Homo sapiens: one gene and its partner. The protein of the gene in region 1 purifies or fractionates together with the protein of each later gene. This does not show direct contact. Each region holds a gene or a part of one and is shown on either strand. Other genes may lie near its edges.

Evidence for each region. The genes of interacting proteins can lie anywhere in the genome.
Region 2: the proteins of LSM14B (region 1) and DDX6 purify together in Homo sapiens (affinity purification with mass spectrometry; 5 studies listed by BioGRID and IntAct, with this or other methods). This does not show direct contact.

What each region holds. Positions count from the first base shown.
Region 1 is NC_000020.11:62,118,327-62,125,490, reverse strand, and holds the start of LSM14B (protein LSM14 homolog B), read right to left. Parts: upstream 3,017-7,164; 5' UTR 2,825-3,016; coding exon 2,698-2,824; intron 2,387-2,697; exon of another isoform or gene 2,268-2,386; intron 2,036-2,267; exon of another isoform or gene 1,807-2,035; intron 875-1,806; coding exon 711-874; intron 1-710. UniProt on the Homo sapiens protein: mRNA-binding protein essential for female fertility, oocyte meiotic maturation and the assembly of MARDO (mitochondria-associated ribonucleoprotein domain), a membraneless compartment that stores maternal mRNAs in oocytes.
Region 2 is NC_000011.10:118,753,161-118,760,190, reverse strand, and holds part of DDX6 (probable ATP-dependent RNA helicase DDX6), read left to right. Parts: intron 1-146; coding exon 147-269; intron 270-1,288; coding exon 1,289-1,417; intron 1,418-2,903; coding exon 2,904-3,020; intron 3,021-3,867; coding exon 3,868-3,931; intron 3,932-4,687; coding exon 4,688-4,789; intron 4,790-5,303; coding exon 5,304-5,479; 3' UTR 5,480-5,486; intron 5,487-7,030.

The DNA.
Region 1 (7,164 bases):
AGGGCAAGCCCTGCAGTCCCTGCAGGTAGGTCACGCCACTCACAGCAGCTGCTCAGGGCTCAGACTTCTCCAACCAGAAACTAAGGGCAAACGCTATGCCCGAAACATCACAGGTCCAGGAGCATCCACTCATACCACACTACACTACACACGCGCACATGCACACCCAACTCCCCAGGTCGCCTTCCTTAAGAGCCACGTGACACAGCACACACCACCTACTGTGTGTGCTACAAGAATCAACACCTTCTGTGAGAGCAGCAACAGCCTGGACAAAAGTTAAGCCACTTTTCATTAAAAGGTTATTCCTCAGGCTGGGTGTGGTGGCTCACGCCTGTAATCCTAGCACTTTGGGAGGCCAAGGCGGGTGCATCACAAGGTCAAGAGATTGAGACCATCCTGGCCAACATGGTGAAACCCCGTCTCTACTAAAATTACAAAAATTAGCTGGGCATGGTGGTGCGTCCCTGTAGTCCCAGCTACTCGGGAGGCTGAGGCAGGAGAATTGCTTGAACCTGGGAAGCCAAAGTTGCAATGAGCTGAGATCACGCCACTGACCTCCAGCCTGGTGACACAGCGAGACGCTGCCTCAAAGAAAAAAAAAAAAAGGTTATTCCTCACATTGAGCGTTCTGACCAAACATGCCACCAAGCTCCAAATGGAAACCAGCATCTCCTACAGCATGCACAGAGGGACAGTGGCACACTTACCTGAACAATGGCGGGATCCTGCGGGAGTGTGTGCTGAGCTTTCGGAGGTTCACACACAGTGATATCCTTGATGTCACTTCCTCGGAAAATGATGTACTCATAAATCTCCTCTCTGGGGGGCGCAGGCCTATCTGTGGGACGGTCTTCAGTGCCAAAGGACCTCACTTATGAGTGGAGAAAGAGAAGCGTTATTGTTGTCCTCAGCCAGTTCAATCAACCCTGACACCACTGCTCCCAAGCCTTCCAAAAGACGGCGACACTTGCTCAGAGCCACAACACAGCACCCCAGGTCCACATTTCAACAACTACTTAATGCCCCGATTTTCAATGGACAGTGCTGATAATGCACCAATTGGTGAAGCTCCAGACAACAGACAGCTCTAGATCACAAAGATGACAAGGAACAATTTCACAGACTGACAGTCTGATGTGCGAAGGCACCAACGTACAGAGCTCTCAGCAAAACAAGGCTTGCTTCGTAAGGCCTCCCTGTTCACGTTTGACTCTGTAGATCCAACAGCCAGCCGGCTGCTTTATGCCCAAAGCCTCACCGCACATTGCGCCTGAGGAGGCAGTTTTCTCACAAAGGAATCTAGACGAGTGTTGCCCTTACCCTTCTATCCATAACAAACCTTGGAACAGCTGTAACAGAAAACAAAGGGAGACAGGGTCCCAGGATTATGGACCTCTGACCCCGGCTTCCGCATCTATAAGGAATTGAGTCTACTAACCCCTAACCAGCAGGCTTCCAGGAGCGCCCAAGTCTCTTTCTAGCAAGCCTCTAGGGGCAGAGGTGGGTGGGACAGCAGCCTCTAACTGGTAAGACACAACTCCTGCTAACTCCTGGGCCTACTCTGGGCCTCAGCTTCTCTAACTGGGCTCTCCTGTAATAAGTGTAGTGAGGTTCCATGGCTGCAAGTGAGTGCATAGCCCTGGCATACTCAACAAGCTCCTGAAGCCACGCAGGAGACGGGCTTCAAAAGGAGACACTCCCTGTTTGGAATGAGTGCGTTCTTCTACACATGAAGTTCCCTGTGACCTAAGCAGCGTTTCAGACGCGTCTAGACACTTCAAGAACCCCTGGGAGCCTAGCGCCAGATCCAGCACACACACGGGCTTAGGCAGACGTGGCTCCACGGGCACTTTTCTCTGAGAGGCAGGGGAAGTGCACTCCCCGTCTTCTCTGGGTGATGAAGACAAAGAAACTCTGGACCACCCGCTGCCTCAACAACCTCAGAGATTCTGACTCTAAAGAGCCCCCCTCCTGTAAGTCCTCCAGCGGCCACAGCCGGTTACGAGCACCCACAGGCGGCTGTCACCAAAAGGTAAGCCCCACAGTGGGAAGGTCAGGATAGAGCAGGAGAACCGTTTAAACCGGGGCATCTGGCTGCCAACGGATGCTTCTGCCTTGGCAGGAGGCCGCATTAGGACGCGGTATTTGTTCAGGATCAAGGCCCCAGCTGTCTAATAAGTTCCAGAAAGGCTTGCAGGATTCGCGTGTTGTGACCCCACCCCCAGCCTTCGGGAGACGCCGGGACACTGGCCCCGCCACCCGACCTCGAGGCTCCCCCGCAGGGATCCCCCCAGGCTGGCGGGGAGGAGGCCCGCTGACGGGAGCCGCCCTGCTCCTCGGAGCTGGCACCTGCAGAGGTGGGCTGGGCGGCCGAGGGGGCGGCACCGCGGGGGCCGGGCCCGCCCCTCACCAAACACCGCCGGGCGCCCGCGCACAATCCCGCCGCCCTGGGAGCCCAGGGAGACCATTGTGCGGCCGGCTACGCTGGGGGAGGGTGGCGCGCGGGAAGGGGGCGCCTCGGGGGCGTCCGGGGTGAAGGCGCGGGCAGGGGATCTCGGGCCGGGTGTGCCCTGGGTGGGTTCTGGGCGGGGTCTGGGCGCCAGGCTCCGGGGCGCCCCGGGGCGGGGAGGGCACCGCAGGCCGGGGCTGTTGGCGGACGGGGGTCAGCGGGCTCGGGCGGGCGGCGGCCGCTACCTTTGGCGAGCGCCACGGTGGAGTTGTCGGTGTCGATGGTGTAGAGAATGCCCTCGTAGCGGATCTGCGCCTTGGAGATGAGGCTGATCTTGCTGCCCAGATACGGGGTGCCTGAGGAGCCGCTCATGGCGGCGGCCGGGGTGCGTCGGGCCGCGGTGGGGAAGGAGCGCCGGGCCGCGGCCCGCTCCGCCGCCGCGCGGTGGCCTGGCCGCCCGCTCCTGCGCTCCTCCGCCCGCCGCCGCCTCCGCCTGGGCGCCTCCTCGCCACCGCCCGAGGGGCCTGCGCGGGCACCGAGCGAACCAAGAAGGGGCGCGCGACTGGGGCTCTGAGAGGAGCGCGGGGGAGGAGGGGCCGCCGCAGCCACATCCGGGGCCTCGCGCCGCCACGCACCGCCACGCACCGCCCCTTCACGCTCGCCGCCCATTGGCTCGCCGCGCCCGCCGTCCTTTAAATATGGCCGGGCCGCCAGCTGGGGGGCGGGCCCTCGCGTCGTTCCTGCGCAGCAAGGCGCCGCTGGCCGGGGGCGGGTCTCCCCGGCGATCCGCCCCACCCTCGGCCGGCTCCCGGCGGGCCCCTCGCGGAGCTGGGAGCACGAGACTGAGCGGGCGGGGGGAGGGGTGGGAAGCGGCCCGGGAGGAGCGCGCGTGCGCGTGGGCGGGCGGCTGCGGTTTGCACGCTCAGTGGGCGGGACCGGGGAGGAGCGCCAGGCCCCGCCCGCGCGCGTGCCGGCGCCGCCCCGGACCCTGGGCGCCGCGAACACGGGGGCTTTGCCCCCTTGGCCTCAGTTTCCCCTCCTACAGAAGTGGGGTCCGGACGACTCCCCTATCTTGGGCCAGATGCGCCTATAGCCCTCACCCTCATGGGGGACCGGGGAGTGGCGGAGGCCCTGGGCGCCGGGTGTTCCCGGGCAGCCCCGGGACTCCCGCCCCAGTGCCCAGGTGCCGGCGGGGGGCGGGCGCGGCGGCAGCTCCCGGGAAGGCGGCGCTTCCGGCGTGGCAGCCTCTAAATATAACATGCTGAGCACACTTTCTCTTTTAATCCTGCCCCTCCTCCCAAAGCCTGCCGCAGCTTTCCATTTCCCTTAAAATAAATTCTGACTGGCTACCGGGGGCCTCGGAGCCTCCGCTCGTACCCGGGGCTGCGGCCCGGAGGCCTTGCCCACCTCCCCGGCCGTGGAGGAAGCTCGGCCGCCCGCCGTCGCTTAGCTGCGGGCCCTCCTCGCGTATACTCCGCGTGATTAGTGACCGAGGGCGCGCGGTGTGTGCTTTTTTTGCTTCCGTCTTGACCGTGAACATCATCAGATCACGGACCAATATTGGGTCCTGGAAAAAAAAAGTAGTGGGTGGTGACTATAAAAATGCAATAGGCTGGGCGCGGTGGCTCACGCCTGTAATCCCAACACTTTGGGAGGCGGAGGCGGGCGGATCACTTGAGGTGAGGAGTTCAAGACCAGCCTGGGCAAAATGGTGAAACCCTGTCTCTACTCTAAAAATACAAAAAAACTAGCCGGGCGTGGTGACAGACACGTGTAATCCCCAGCTACTCGGGAGTCTGAGGCAGGAGAATCGCTTGAGCCTGAGACGTGAAGATTGCAGTCAGCAGAGATCTCACCACTGCATTCCAGCCTGGGCGACAGAGCTAGACCCCGTCTCAAGAAAAATAATAATAAAAATGAAATAGAATAAGCTAGAAGATATCAGATGGCGTGGTGGGTGGCTCATGCCTGTAATCTCAGCACTCTGGGAGGCCGAAGCGGGAAGATCACTGGAGGCCAGGAGTTTGAGATCAGCCTGGGCGACATATGGAGACCCCATCTCTACAAAAAAAAAAAAAACTTTAAAAAAAATTGGGCGAGTGTGGGGGCACATACTTGTAGTTCCAGCTCCTGGGGAGGTGGAGGCAGAGGCGGGAGGATCACTTGAGCCCAGGAGTTGGAGGCTGCAATGAGCTGTGATTGGACTACTGCACGCAGGGGTGGCAGCAAGACCCTATTTCTAAAGGAAAAAAAGAAAATAATAGTATCTCGCATGGTGAAAGTAAGTATTATTTTGTGAAATATTTAATTCACCTGTTTGTGTAAGTGTGGACTTGGTAAGGACCTAGAATGTGTTTCTGACTATAATAAGAAGATCTTACCTGCCCTGCAGGGTAGACGCTGTGACTCCCCATTTGACAGAAGGGGAAACAGAGGCCCAGCACGGGGGAGTCACGCAGAGAAGTTGCAGTCTGGCCTGGTGGCATCCTCCACAGGCTTGGGGCCGCATCACACTGTCTCTTGTCTCTTCACAAAGGTGAAGCCAACCTGCTCCCACCAGAGCCCGGCAATGGCCAGTAAGAGAACAGTGATGAGTTTAAGGAAGGGGACACAGGAAGCAGAAGAGAAGAGGGAAAATTCAGTTTCATCTGCCAAGATTGACCTGTACATTCTAGAATTGCTTCTTGGCTCCTGGAACATCATATGCAGGAAGAGAACAGAGACAGCAAAGCCATGGAGTCAGCCCAGCTCAGGGAGGAGAGGTCTCCAGCGACTGGGGCATCTGGCCCTGGGAAGCGCGACCCAGACTCTCAGCTTCTCAACACAGCACATCCTTCCCCACTTGGATATACAGGGTGCACCTGTCAGGAGGAGGTGCCAACCAGGTCTCCTGAGTGAGCTGGCCTGGTGATCCCATGTGGAGTCAAAGTCCTTCTGTCCCCCCACCCCACCCCATTTTCCAAGTAAGGAAATCCAAGGTCACAAATCCTGTACTTCATGCCTCCTAGTTTCTGAGCCACAGGCTTCTGGCTGTGTTGGGGGTGGGGTGCATGCTTCACTAGCAGGAGCTGATTCTGCCTTGAAAAGGAGCTGGCCTCTGAGCCCCCGGACTGAAGGCAGGGAGGGTGCAGTTCCCAGAGACCTCCGAGTGCCTGCCCAGCCCGTGGGTGTGCAGCTGGTGGCTCCCTGAGAACATTAGCCACCCTGCAAATGCCCAGGAAGGCAGAGGCTAAAAATATACGTAGTGCCCAGGTCCAGGAATGCAGGCCCTGCCATTCATTCCTTGGTATCCTGCCCAAAGTGGAGGGCACTTGGGTGAGGTCTGAGAAGGCGACAGTTGTGCCAGGCCTAAGTCGACCTGGACGTTCACTGGCATGGCTTGTTTTCCAGGCTGGGGCACATGTATCCAGCACCTCCACTATAAGCAGCTCTTTACTGTGCACAGGTCTGAACAGCCCACCTGCCTGGTAATCACCAGGCTTTAGACCAGCGAGCCCAAGGATTTGGAGGAATGAGCTGGGGCTTCTGGGAAACCCTGGGCCACTTGGACTGCCTGCCTCAGTTTCTTCATTTGCCTGTCCATCTCACTGGTGTGCTTGAGGACCCCGGAAGATCATGCCTGTGAAGGGCTTTGAGAGTAACCAGGGGCTATTCTGGAGGAACGTGTAGGAACTGGGTGTGCTGAGGGCACTGGGAGGGCCATAGGGACAGCTGGAGAGGTTTCTGCTGCAGCCACAAGCCACTCATTACGTGCTTGCTCTGTGTATGTAGGAGCATGCCGTGGTCCCCAGTGACAGGTGGGGAGACATGGAGTAAGGACCCTGCTCCACGTTGCATCACCAGTCTAGCTGGGGTGGCACAGGCCAGCATCCTGCAGCAGGTAAGGGTGCCCCACCACAGAAAACCATCCTGTGACTCTAATGTTCCCCTGAGCAAGAATGACTGGCACAGCCATTGATCTCACAGGTGTCATTGCTCAGTAGGCGCCACACAAAACAGCTGAGTTAATTCAGAGGGCGTTAACGATGGGTGGTCCACAGATAAGTCAGTGGTCTGAAGTGTGGCCACGTGCTGGTGAGACAGGACTCAACCGTCCCCGTCCCCTCATTCAGGATCTGGCGCAGGAGAGGGGATTGGGGAGGCCCTGCAGGCCTCAGGCCCCCTCCCCCGAGGAAGACCCTCCAACCGCACAGGTGCAACAGCACCAGCCTGAAGGGAGCTGAGGAGGGCACAGGTGTGCCGTGTGGGGAGGCTCAGGGCCAGCTTTGCTAGGAGGACTTCCGGGCAGGGAATGGGACAGTGAGGCCCAGGGAGGGTGTTCGGGGCACAGGGACCCACAGGTGGCTGGACAGTAAGGTGAGGAGGGAGGGCTGAGTTGATCCTGTACCATCAGGAATTCTCATGGAGGTCTGACCTGCTCTCTGTGAATCCAGTTAAAATCCATTTCCTCCTGCATGGGGCTCTGCAGGGCTGTTTTCCCGGGAGGCTGGATGAGCACCAGTGGGTTGAAGTTCAGGCATCCTCAGACCCTCTTCCCTCTTCCCATCCATCTCCCCCTCCTGCCTCCTGTCCCCCTTCCACCTCCCTTTCTCCCCTTCCCACCCCAACAGCCGAGTTTCCTGGCGTGAGGAGCCCTGTGTGATGGGAAGTTCCTTGGAAAATAAAAGAGGAGTGTGTTAAACTCCAGCACCTAGCGGGCAGCCTCGGCCCCG
Region 2 (7,030 bases), on another chromosome or scaffold:
CAGTGTTGGAGAGAATTTATTGTTTTCCACCAGGAACATTTCATGGATGCTTTTGTTGGATGATGCCTTATTCTTTGACCATGTATTAACCAAGACCTTAGACATTATTTTATTGTTTTTAAAATTGTCTTTTCTTTCTACTGCAGGCAGATAAGTTGCTGTCACAGGATTTTGTGCAGATAATGGAGGATATTATTCTCACGCTACCTAAAAACAGGCAGATTTTACTATATTCCGCTACTTTCCCTCTTAGTGTACAGAAGTTCATGGTGAGTATAAATCTGTACTTGGAATCAGTGCCATCCTGTGACCTTTGAGTATGCTTTTATTTGTAATTACATCTTCATATCTGTGAATATACTTTATGCTAATTATTTCAAGCCTTTGGCTCTTTCTTCAGTTGATCAATTAAAGATTTGTTTTACGTAAATTAACTGACTTTTTAAGAAGGTTGTAATAGTAACTTAATTAAATTCCTCATCTTTCACTTAGTTTTTGGTGTCATGATGACATAGCCATTGGTGCTAGCTGAATTGATTCCGGTATTATTCTATATACAAAACAGAGCTTGAGTATCCTAAACTGAAATCCAAAATACTGCAGAATTTGAAACCTTTTGAGCCACGAACATGATGCTAAAAGGAAATGTTCTTTGGATTTTGAATTTTCAAATTAAGGATGCTCAGTCACTAAGTGTAATGCACATATTCCAAAATTAGAAAAAATTTAAAACCTGAAACACTTCTGTTCCTAAGCATTTTGGGTAAGGAATACTCAACCTGTAGTAACTTAGCTGCATTTTTGAGATCTTATATCTTAATTTATTTCTATCGGGTCGGGCATGGTGGCTCATGCCTGTAATCCCAGCACTTTGGGGGGCCGAGGCGGGCAGATCACAAGGTCAGGAGTTCGAGACCAGCCTGGGCAACATGGTGAAACCCCGTCTCTACTAAAAATACAAAAATTAGTCTGTTATGGCAGTGCATGCCTGCATTCCCAGCTACTCGGGAGGCCGAGGCAGGAGAATCACTTGAACCCGGGAGGTGGAGGTTGCAGGGAGCAGAGATCGTGCCACTACACTCCAGCCTGGGTGACAGAGCAAGATTTTGTCTCAGGGTGGCAGGGGGGAAATTCTGTAATGACAGATCATATATTTTGTTTTGAAGAGAGTTGCGTCCCTTACAGCAAGAGTTTATCGGACAGAAACGTATAGGGTATATTTTGAATTTGAGATGAACTCTGCTTTCATTTAAGACGACGACTCATCTTTTTCCCGCTCCCCCCCCAGAATTCCCATTTGCAGAAACCCTATGAGATTAACCTGATGGAGGAACTAACTCTGAAGGGAGTAACCCAGTACTACGCATATGTAACTGAGCGCCAAAAAGTACACTGCCTCAACACACTTTTCTCCAGGGTAAGAAGTAGGCTTCTGCTGTTGAATATTATCTCTCGAGTCCCAGTAAAACAGATGATTTCATCAATTTTCCCACCGTCTTCACTGTATAAAAGTTCGTAGTGTTTCTGGCTTGGCACGGTGGCTCATGCCTCCCAGCACTTTGGAGGCTGAGGCAGGCAGATCACGAGGTCAGGAGTTTGAGACCAGCCTGGCCAACATGGTGAAACCCCATCTCTACTACAAAATACAAAAAAATTGGGCATGGTGGCGTGTGCCCATAATCCCAGCTACTTGGGAGGCCGAGGCAGGAGAATTGCTTGAACCCAGGAGGCGGAGGCTGCAGTGAGCTGAGATTGCACCATTGCACTCCAGCTCTGGGCGACAGAGCAAGACTCCGTCTTGGGAAGAAAAAAAAAAAGATTAAAAAATAATTCATAGTGTTTCCTAAAAGGCAGGTTTAGTTGTTGACCTAAAGTTGATACTAAATGATTAACCAAGTCACAGATACACTTTTGAATAGTTTCTGAAATACTTTGACCTTAACTAGGGTTAATCCTCATTATTCACATATTCTGTATTTGTGAATTTGCTTAGTCACTAGAATTTATTTGTAACTCCGGAATTAATACTCAAGGTAGTTCAGCAGTCATTTGTGGACGTGTACAGTGTGGCAAAGAGTTTAAGTCACCTGACATGCACATTCCCAGCTGAGGTCGAAGAAAGCAATCTCTGTCCTCTTGTTTAGCTCTCATACTGTGAACAAGGGTCCTTTTCACAGTCTGCCATGTTTTTCAAGTTTTTGTTGCTGATTTCACAGTTTTAATTGGCCCCTACACATGGTGCTGAAGTGCTGCCCAATGCTGGTGGCATTGGTTGTGAGTATATTAAAGAAGGTATTCTTGGCTGGGCACAGTAGCTCATACCTGTAATCCCAGCACTTTGGGAAGCCGAAGTGGGCAGATCACCTGAGGTCAAGAGTTCAAGACCAGCCTGACCAACAGGCTGAAACCCTGTCTCTACTAAAAATACAAAAGTTAGCCAGGCATTGTGGTGGGTGCCTGTAATCCCAGCTACTCAAGAGGCTGAGGCTGGAGAATTGTTTGAACCCAGGAGGCAGCTGTTGCAGTGAGCTGAGATTGCACCATTGCACTCCAGCCTGGACAACAAGAGTGAAACTCCATTTCACAAAAAAAAAATAAAATAAAATATTTTTAAATGGAAACACATAAAACATAACTACTTTGAATCAGATAATCAATTGTATTACTCTTGTTGACAGTTATGTGGCCCTTAAGAAATATACTCTAATACGGTAAATCTTAGATATTATTATCTTCCATCTATTATTTACAATTTTTACAATTTACCATCTCTCTCATATCATGAGATTCTAAGTTTTAGACCATGTTAATGTTTCTTTTTTGCTGGTTCGTGTTTTCAAGATTTGGCAAACCAAATGAAGGTTTTTTTTATTTTTCTCATACTTATTTTTTTCTGTGCTCAGCTTCAGATAAACCAGTCGATCATTTTCTGTAACTCCTCTCAGCGAGTTGAATTGCTAGCCAAGAAGATTTCTCAACTGGGTTATTCTTGCTTCTATATTCATGCTAAAATGAGGCAGGTGAGTATAAAACTAGAACTTGCACAAATTTAATAAGAAATCTCTTTCTTTATTTTGTTTTAATGTTCTTTTAAATGTCCTGAGTTTAAGAATAAACTGTTCCTTAGTAGCCAAAGGACCTTTCATTTTGACCTCCCTCAGGTTCAATTTTCTAGCAATAAAATAGGGATAATAGTACATATTCATAACTTACAAGGTTGTTAGGAAAATTAAGATAAATGTTTAAATGAGTACTTTGGAAGCTGTCAGGCATGATACAAATGTAAAATTTTATTCTTCCCTTCCTTTCCATGTTTAATTCTCTGTTTAATACAGTAAATAGCCACATGTGGCAATTTAAATCAGTTAAAATTAAAATAAAAAGTCAGTTTCTCAATCACAGCCACATTTCAAGTGCTCAGTTAGGCACCTGTTGCTACTGGATAGTGTATTGGAATTGGAAGTACAGACACAAATATTTCCTTTATTATAGAAGTTTTACTGGACAGCACTGCTCTGGATTTTTAAATATGGCCCCTCAGCTGGCTGATTTTTCTTTTTTTCTTTACTGTTTGCCTTTAGAAAAAGATACAATATCTAAATTTCAGAATTTGATTTAGCAAAAAATAATTTAAAACTGTAACAAAAATGACTTTTTTGTTAACTACATTATGAAATTTCGTAAGTAAACAGTTTCTGTAGACGAAGATATCAAGAACTTAACTCATTTGGTTTTGAAAGCAGCTTAATATCATGGATCACTTATAAACAGATTTTGGGTAGAACTGATCGTCTGGGAGAAATAATTATGGGAAATTTGGGGCTGTATATGAGTGTTAATCAAATGGAATACATTGCTTTCTCCTAGGAACATCGAAATCGTGTATTTCATGATTTCCGAAATGGCTTATGCCGCAATCTTGTTTGCACTGGTAAGTATTTTTGTATTTCCTTTACCCAGTGTTTTTCTCCCAAGTTGTTTTTTGCTTTCTCTGTTCATATTACATAGTGCAACCTGTGACATAGTCCGACACACCCTACCACTACTTCTAGGATTTCTGAAGTTGAAAATGAACTCTTGTCAGCTCCTGATACTGGGTTCCATATCTGAAACTTTAGAAGACTTACTCTGGCACTCATACCTCATCTCTGTCTTTTTTTTGGGGGGGGGGGGGAGGGGGATGGAATCTTTGTCACCCAGGCTGGAGTGCAGTGGTGCGATCTTGGCTCTCTGAAACCTCCACCTCCTGGGTTCAAGTGATTCTCCTGCCTCAGCCTCCCAAGTAGCTGGGATTGTGGGCGCCTGCTACCGCTTAGCCCGGCTAATTTTTGTATTTTTGGTAGAGACAGGGATTTCACCATGTTGGCCAGGCTGGTCTCGAACTCCTGACCTCAGGTGATCTTCCTGCTTTGGTCTCCCAAAGTGCTGGGATTACAGGCTTGAGTGCACCCAGCCTCTTTTAGACACATTTTTTAAAACTTGCTTACAATTACTGGAAAAAAGTAACTTGGGAGCAGAAAGTTATTTATGATAATGTGATTATGAAAGGTAATGCCAGTAATGTGCAAATGCATTTGAATAACTGAATTAAATTAATAAACTTAGGTTATGCTAGAAATATGTGTTAGTATTGTACTGAGAGACATTTCTAAATTGAAAAAATGAAAATTATCTTTTTTTTTTTAAGATCTGTTTACCCGAGGTATTGATATACAAGCTGTGAATGTGGTAATAAACTTTGATTTCCCAAAGCTGGCAGAGACCTATCTCCATCGTATTGGAAGATCAGGTGAGGAAAAAAGAGGTGATATTCTTGGTAGAAGTTCTTTTTTGAGGCGTGTAATGACTAAATTTTGTTCTTTTGTGAAATAGAGTACAGTAGCTATGAGAACAGTGAATTAACAGTAATTCAGTTGTTTGGTATTTAAGACTAATTTCTAATTCTTCTGTAGCATTTATTAAGAAAAGTTAAAATAACTGCTTAATTTGAGATGAAATTAACACATGAGAACTTCACTCATTAGGTGGTATGTTCTGTGACTGTTGTTTAATGTGTATTTTATGGCAGTTTTGACTGCCATTTTGTCATTTGAGAAAGGTGAAATGAAGTACTATTTTGGGCTGCGAAACCTGAAGTTGTAGGGAAACCTGTGTTTGAAGACCATTAAGAAGTTGTTTTGCATACTAAGAATGGCACTGAACATCATTATCAATCCTGTGTGGTTTTGCCACTGCTTGACTTGCACAATTCACATTGATTTTCATATTTTATTCATTAAAATTTTTAAACGCATGTTTTTTAGGTCGCTTTGGTCATCTTGGCTTAGCCATCAACTTGATCACATATGATGATCGCTTCAACCTGAAAAGTATTGAGGAGCAGCTGGGAACAGAAATTAAACCTATTCCGAGCAACATTGATAAGAGCCTGTATGTGGCAGAATACCACAGCGAGCCTGTAGAAGATGAGAAACCTTAACAAGCATGTACGTCCCTGACAGAACAGCTAAGAGGAACCTTTAAATGAGGGAAATCAAAATCTTCTTTCCTGGGGGAAATTTGATGTCACACCATATATAATAGCAATAAAGGGTAAAATACCCACTAGCATAAATGACAGTAAATAATATCTCTTGTGGGAGGTTGTAGTCTCATTCGAGAATCTGTAAATGTTGTTCTTGAATGCAGCTTCCCGGGTAATGTGGTAGATTAGCAGTACTTAAATTCAGAGTCCTAAAATAATGAAAGCAAAAAAGAATGTTTTTCAGCAATTTGTTTTTCTTTTTGAGACAAGGTCTCACTGTCATCCAGGCTGGAGTGCAGTGGTGCAATCATAGCTCACTGCAGCCTGGTTCTCCTGGGCTCCTGAGTAGCTGGAACTGTAGGCACATGCCACCACGCCTGCCTAATGTTTTAAATTTTTGGTAGAAACAAGGTCTTGCTTTGTTGCCTAGGCTGGTCCAGAACTCCTGAACTCCAGCAGTCCTCCTGCCTTGGCTTCCCAAAGTGTTAGGATTATAGGCGCAAGCCACTGTGCCACTGTGCCTGGCCTTTTTTGACAGTTTTGTAGGGGGGATTTTTGTTGTTTTTGTTTTTTGAGAGTCTTGCTCTGTTGCCCAGGCTGGAGTACAGTGGCACAATCACGGCCCACTGCAACCTCTGCCTCCCAGGTTCAAGCGATTCTGGTGCACCTCAGCCTCCCAAGTAGCTGGAATTACAGGCATGCTCCACCATGCCCAGCTAATTTTTGTATTTTTTAGTAGAGTTGGAGTTTCACCATGTTGGCCAGGTTGGTCTTGAACTCCTGACCTCAAGTGATCTACCCGCCTCAGCCTCCTAAAGGGAGGCTGGGATTACAGGTGTGAGCCACCACACTGCCAGCAGTTTTGAATATGAAAGTATTTACATTTCTGAAAATGTAAAATGTTTTTAGCATTTACTCTTAATTTCTAGTAAGTACATTAATCACTCTGATAAAACTATCCATAATACCTTATTAGCAAATGTTTAATCAGATTATGAGGATGGCCATCTTTTTAAAATACCCACTCTGGGCCGGGTGCGGTGGCTCACACCTGTAATCCCAGTACTTTGGGAGGCCGAGGTGGGCGGATCACGAGGTCAAGAGATCGAGACCATCCTGGCCAACATGGTGAAACCCTGTCTCTACTAAAAATACAAAAATTAGCCGGGCATGGTGACACGCACCTGTAGTCCCAGCTACTCGGGAGGCTGAGGCAGGCGAATCACTTGAACCTGGGAGGTGGAGGTTACAGTGAGCTGAGACCGCACCACTGCACTCCAGCCTGGGTGACAAAGCTAGACTCCATCTCAAAAAAAAAAAAAAAAAAAAAGCCACTTGGGCTGGCTCAGTGGCTCACACCTGTAATCCCAGCACTTTGGGAGGCCGAGGTGGGTGGATTACCTGAGGTCAGGACTTCAAGACCAGCCTGGCCAACCTGGTGAGACCCCGTGTCCACTAAAGATACAGAAAATTAGCCAGGCATGGTGGCGGGCGCCTGTAATCCCA